Linked DNA regions of Homo sapiens: region 1 is linked to region 2. Evidence: fine-mapped expression QTL. Tissue or cell type: unexposed skin. Region 2 holds a variant in brackets; the other region holds the start of a gene. All regions are shown on one strand. Distances are between the middles of the regions.

Region 1 (2,681 bases), 190 kb before region 2:
TCAGCACTTTGGGAGGCTGAGGCGGTTGGATCACTTGAATCCAGGAGACACGGCGAAACCCGGTATCTACCAAAAAATATAAAAATTAGCCGGGCGTGGTGGCGCGTGCCTGTAATCCCAGCTACTCTGGAGGCTGAGGCAGGAGAATCTCTTGAACCCGGGAGGCGGAGGTTGCAGTGAGCTGAGATCGCACCACTCCAGGCTGCACTCCAGCCTGGGTGACAGGGCGAGACCCTGTCTGTAATCAGTAATAATAATAATAAAATTAACAGCTTTATTGAGTATAATTTACATGCCATAAAATTCACCCACTGGAAGTTTACACTTTCTTCACTTTACAGGGTCTCACTCTGTCGCCCAGGCTGGGATGCAGTGGCGCCATGTCGGCTCACTGCAACCTCTGCCTCCCGGGGTCAGGTGATCCTCCCACCTCAGCCTCCCAAGTAGCCGGACTACAGGTGTGCACCACCACACCTAGCTAATTTTTCTTTTTTTTCTTTTTTCCTTTCTCTCCCTCCCTTCCTCCTTTTTTTTTTTTTTTTTTTGTAGATACGGTGTCTCCCCATGTGGCCAGGTTGGTCACAACTCCTGAACTCAAGTGATCCGCGCGTCTCGACCTCCCAAAGTGCTGGGATTACAGGCGTGAGCCACTGCGTCCGGCCACACTTCCATGACTTTTTAATAAACTTATACAGTTGTACAATTGTCACCACAATCCACTTTTAGAACATTTCTATTACCGCTTTCCTCCAATTTTTTCAAGCCCATCTGCATTCAATACCCGCTCCCACACCTCGCCCCAGGTAACTGTGCTCTTTGTCTTTGTAGATTTGCCTAGTGTAATTTATTTTTTACTTCGGTAATATAAGTAGGTCGTGCAAAATAGAGACTATTTAGCAACAGACTAGGCAGACTTAAATCCGATGGAAAGTTTAAAGTTGTTTAAAAGTGGGCTATAGTTTCACATGACTTTTTTAAAAAGAGGAAAGGTGAGAAGAGGTTCCAGTCTGGGGCGGCTAGGACTGGGGTGATGGTTCTGGAGGCGGCGAGGGAAGGTGTGAGGCGAGGAGACCTCTCGAATCGCGCCCGCCCCGCCCAGGGCCGGATTGGCTCCCAACCCACCCTCTTTGCTCCAGGGCGGCCGCCGTCCTCTTGCGCAGGCGTAGTGCTCCTGCTTCCTGGCCGAGGGCGGGCGAGCGGAGCCTGCTTTCGCAGCGATCGCGAGCGTGTGGCGATTGCTTCTGTCTGTTATTTAGATATGGAAGCTGAGGGGATGCACAGAGGCAGCCAGAACCTAGGTCAGGGTCTCGCTCGGTGCTGACCGCCCCCGGGGTCGAGTAGGCGATGGGGGAGCCCGGCTTCTTCGTCACAGGAGACCGCGCCGGTGGCCGGAGCTGGTGCCTGCGGCGGGTGGGGATGAGCGCCGGGTGGCTGCTGCTGGAAGATGGGTGCGAGGTACGGGGGAAGGGGTCCTGTGGAGCGGAGGGCAGGGGCTGGAGGGAGCGGGGCTCCGGGGAGGGAGGAAGGTGTCTTGCTGGGCTGAATGAATGGCAGAGAGGAGGCGGGCATCAGGAAGAGGAGCGAAGTGTCTGTGGGGGGGGTGGATTCCTGGGGAGAGAAGGGAGAAAGCGGTTCTGGCGCGAGCGGCTGAAGGGTCTGCGGTGGGAGGTGTTTGGGGGAGAAATAGGGGCCGAGTGGGAGAAAGGAAGAAAAGAGAGTTCGGCTCTGGGGAGCCCGGGGGGGCCACAAGGGTTGGGGCGAGGACGGAGGCCCTGACCCGCGGCCTGTGGGGCGAGAAGCGGGCCCCGTCCAGAGAGGCCTGGGTCAGCGGGTAGCTGGGCCGGGGACTGGGAGGAGAGGGACGCGCAGGGAACGTGAGGAGATGCGGGGGTGTCGAGGAGGGGAGGGCGGGGGCTGGCCAGATCCCGTTTAGGGCGCACAGAGCCCCGCGGTGCCAGGTCGGGGAACGGTGGCGGGGGCCGCGAGCTGCCGGGAAGCCGAGGCAGGGCCCGGCGCCTGAACTTTCTCGAGTTTGTTTTGAAAACGATTGCAAATTTTGGGTTTTGTCCCTTAAAGCAATCAAACTTTCACGTAGAAATGTCTTCCTCCTTCCCAACTCTGAGGAACATGGGCGGCTTGGGCTGGGCCACATTTCTCCTGTGAGGCTCGGTACGGCCGAGTGGCACTCCCTGAGGTGGGTCGGGCAGGTATTCAGAGTTCTCTCCAGAGGCTGCCTGTCGTCTTTATTAATGCAGTTGCAAATGAAAAATATTTTAAGGGGAAAGATGAGGTACCGTTCCTGGCACGGTTCAAGATGCACCAGCGTGGTGCATCTTGAAAAGACGAGGGAAGGGAGGAGGGAGTTAGATTGCAATCAGGTTGAGAAGGAGAACTGGGTCAGGGACAAGCTTGTGATGACTGGGAACCATTTGGGTTTTGGAAATAATCTGTATGAAAAGTTCTCTTTGCAGTAAAAGTGGATGGTTGGTCATGATGTAAATTCAAGAAGTATTTTGAGTCTCATGTGTGTTCAGGTAGATTTTTCCTATAAGCCGTACTGCCTCAATTCAGTCTGCCAGGTATTTACTGAGTATTTAACATTGTTTGGTGTACAATGAGGACAAATAAAATTTCTGCGCTCGAAGAGTTTAAGGCTTGAGTGGGGAGAGAGGATTTATACA
Region 2 (2,681 bases):
CTGGGCATTCCTGAATGAGTGACAAGGTTGAGGGCTTGAGTGGAGGCCGGGCTTGAATGCAATGAGGGGACAGAGAGGTTGACACAATGTGCGGCTGGGCTGACTGGGGAACACGGGCTGGCCCTGCGGGGTTTGGGAAGATAGAGGCTGGCAGAGGTGAGTGGTCTAGGCTAGGGGAGGAACTGGCCTGCGAGTTTGCAATTATTTATGCAACAGACACGAAGTGGGCAGCCCCTGAAGCTCAATAAACCCCTGTGTTTTCTGCGTGGAGATGGTCTTTCAGACCCCTACACCACGGGGGCTTCCCTCTGGGGCTCCTAAGAAGGCTGGGCATTGGGGAGCCATCCACACTCCTTCCTGCCCCCTGAAACTGGCGCAAGCTTAAGAAAGCTTCTGGCTGGGGCCAGGGGCAGGACCAGGGAAGAGAGTATGTCCGCAACATAACCTCCATCAGCCCCCACCACCAAGCATGGACTCCATGGCCCTTACCAGGTCTTTCCAGTTTCTACCAGGCCCTTTAATGCTCTATCCTGTGGCCCACCTATTGGCAAGAAGAAAGGAATTTTTGAGTAAATGGAACATCCTTTCCCTCCCTAGAACACCCATGAGGTCAGTCTTGTTCCAGGAGATAAATGAGGTGACTCCCAGGGAGGAGACTCAGCCCCGTCCTCAGGGAGCCGCAGTCTGAGGGGAGCCACAGCCCTGACTCAGGGAGCCCCAGTCTGAGGGGGACACAGCCCTGCCTTCTACAGCAGTGACCACCCTGTCCCAGTGGAGTCCTACGCCAGCCTATCTAGAGGGCTGGAGGCCCTAAAAGAATGGTTGGTGGCCTGAGGCCTGCCCAGGGAGCAGGGTGAAGCCTGACAACGGATCTCTCCATGTCTGTCTCTCCCTCAGGACTGGGGTAGAAAAGGAAGGAAGAATGGAAGGAGGAATAGCGGGAGACAGGACAGCCTCAGCGCAAACTTTCATTTCCTTCCCACCAGAGGTCAGTCCTGACTTTGGCTGTTCTTCTGGGTACCCTCTTCCCTTCCCCCTCACCACCCATGGCCCTTCTCCCCTCATGACAGGTTAGTTACACACCAGGTCCCTCCTCCTCCCCGGGGTGAGGCCTGGAGGCCTTGAGTCAATCCCTTTCCCTGACACCCTGACCCCTCCCCCGCACCCACCGTGTTGCAGGGACTCCAGCAGCTGATGATCATTGAGCCCATAGCCTGTGCCTGGGGCTGTTTGAAACCTTGTCCATGGGATTGTTTAATCCTAACAACAGCACTAGGAGGTGGCTGCTATGATTTTTTTAACAACTAGTAATCAATGAATTAAAATAGTTGACCTAAGCATCTGCAATGGTGACTTCAGCCTTCACTCCTGGGCACATTACTAATGGAAGTAATGAGCTGATAACCTCAGAGGACGGTGCAAGTCAA[T/C]GAGTCACTTGTGGATTCTTATCTGGAAGACACCCTGCGTCTTAGAACCTGCACCACAAGTTTTTGTTGTTGTTGTTGTTGTTTTTGTTTTGTCTTTTTGTTTTGAGACAAGGTCTTGCTCTGTTGCCCAGGCCGGAGTGCAGTGGCACAATCTCGGCTCACTGCAACCTCCACCTCCTGGGTTCAAGCGATTCTCCCACCTCAGCCTCCTGAGTAGCTGGGACTACAGGTGCGCGCCACCACGCCTGGTTAATTTTTGTATTTTTTTTGTAGAGACGGGGTTTCACCATGTTGGCCAGGCTGGTCTTGAGCTCCTGGGCTCAAGTGGTCCACCCGCCTCGGCCTCCAAAGTGCTAGGATTACAGGCGTGAGTCACAGCGCCCAGCCCACCACAAGTTTTTCTCAGGGTGATTCTCAAAGTCCTGGGAGGCATCAGAATTGGTCCTGTCACTTTTGAGAGTTCTTTCCTTGGGGCCTCTGATCAAGTCAGCACACACCTCCAGGGATTTTTCTTTGCAGCTGGTTAGGGTAATTCTAATTCGGTGATTTGCCACCTCTGGCTCCATGAGTGTTTCTCTGGTGTCCTTAAAAGCCACAGCTGGGCCGGGCGCGGGGGCTCGTGGCTGTAATCCCAGCACTTTGGGAGGCCAAGGTGGGTGGATCACTTGAGGTCAGGGATTCAGGACCAGCCTGGCCAACATGGTGAAACCCTATCTCTACTAAAAATACAAAAATTAGCTGGGCATGTTGGCAGGTGCCTGTAATTCCAGCTACTCAGGAGGCTGAGGCAGGTGAATGGCTTGAAACTGGGAGGTGGAGGTTGCAGTGGGCTGAGATTGTGCCACTGCACTCTGGCCTGGGCAACAGAGCAAGGCTGCGTCTCAAAAAAACAAAACAAAACAAAAAAACACCACAGCTGCAGTGCAGCTTCCTGACCAACTTGTTTCTTGGTGAGTGAACAGCGGTGACTTGCAGCAGGAACTGGCGGACCAGAGCTCCGTAGCACCCATAACCTCATCTTCCTGAAAAAGAGGCTTCTATTATTATCTTCATCGTATAGATGAGGAAACAGAGGCACAGAGAGGCTAAGCGACTTACCCAAGGTTGCAGAGCTGGTAAGCTCTGGAGGTTGAACACAGGCAGTCTGGGCAGAGTGCCTGCTCACTGTCCTGCCTCTCCTTGGAAGTTTGCCAGTTGGATGAGGTGCTGAGGGGAGGCCAAGGCTTGGAGGGATGGAGTTGACGGAAGCAGGAA

The links. PIP is the estimated chance that this variant, and not a neighbour inherited with it, causes the effect.
Region 1: it holds the start of RNF8, and the variant in region 2 is fine-mapped to the expression of RNF8 in unexposed skin (GTEx, PIP 0.99).

Annotation. Positions count from the first base shown.
Region 1 is chr6:37,352,821-37,355,501 of GRCh38, forward strand. It overlaps RNF8 (ring finger protein 8), which reads left to right and starts at 1,163. Exons shown (of 8, transcript NM_003958.4): 1 at 1,163-1,455. The coding sequence starts at 1,345. RefSeq lists a silencer at 1,016-1,115 and an enhancer at 1,416-1,465.
Region 2 is chr6:37,545,258-37,547,938 of GRCh38, forward strand. It overlaps LOC124901312 (a long non-coding RNA gene), which reads right to left. Exons shown (of 3, transcript XR_007059567.1): 2 at 2,526-2,681; 3 at 1,681-2,449. Among named protein-coding and RNA genes, the nearest start is that of MIR4462, 8.8 kb to the right of the region's middle. RefSeq lists an enhancer at 362-971. The variant T/C (reference allele first, on the strand shown) is at 1,428.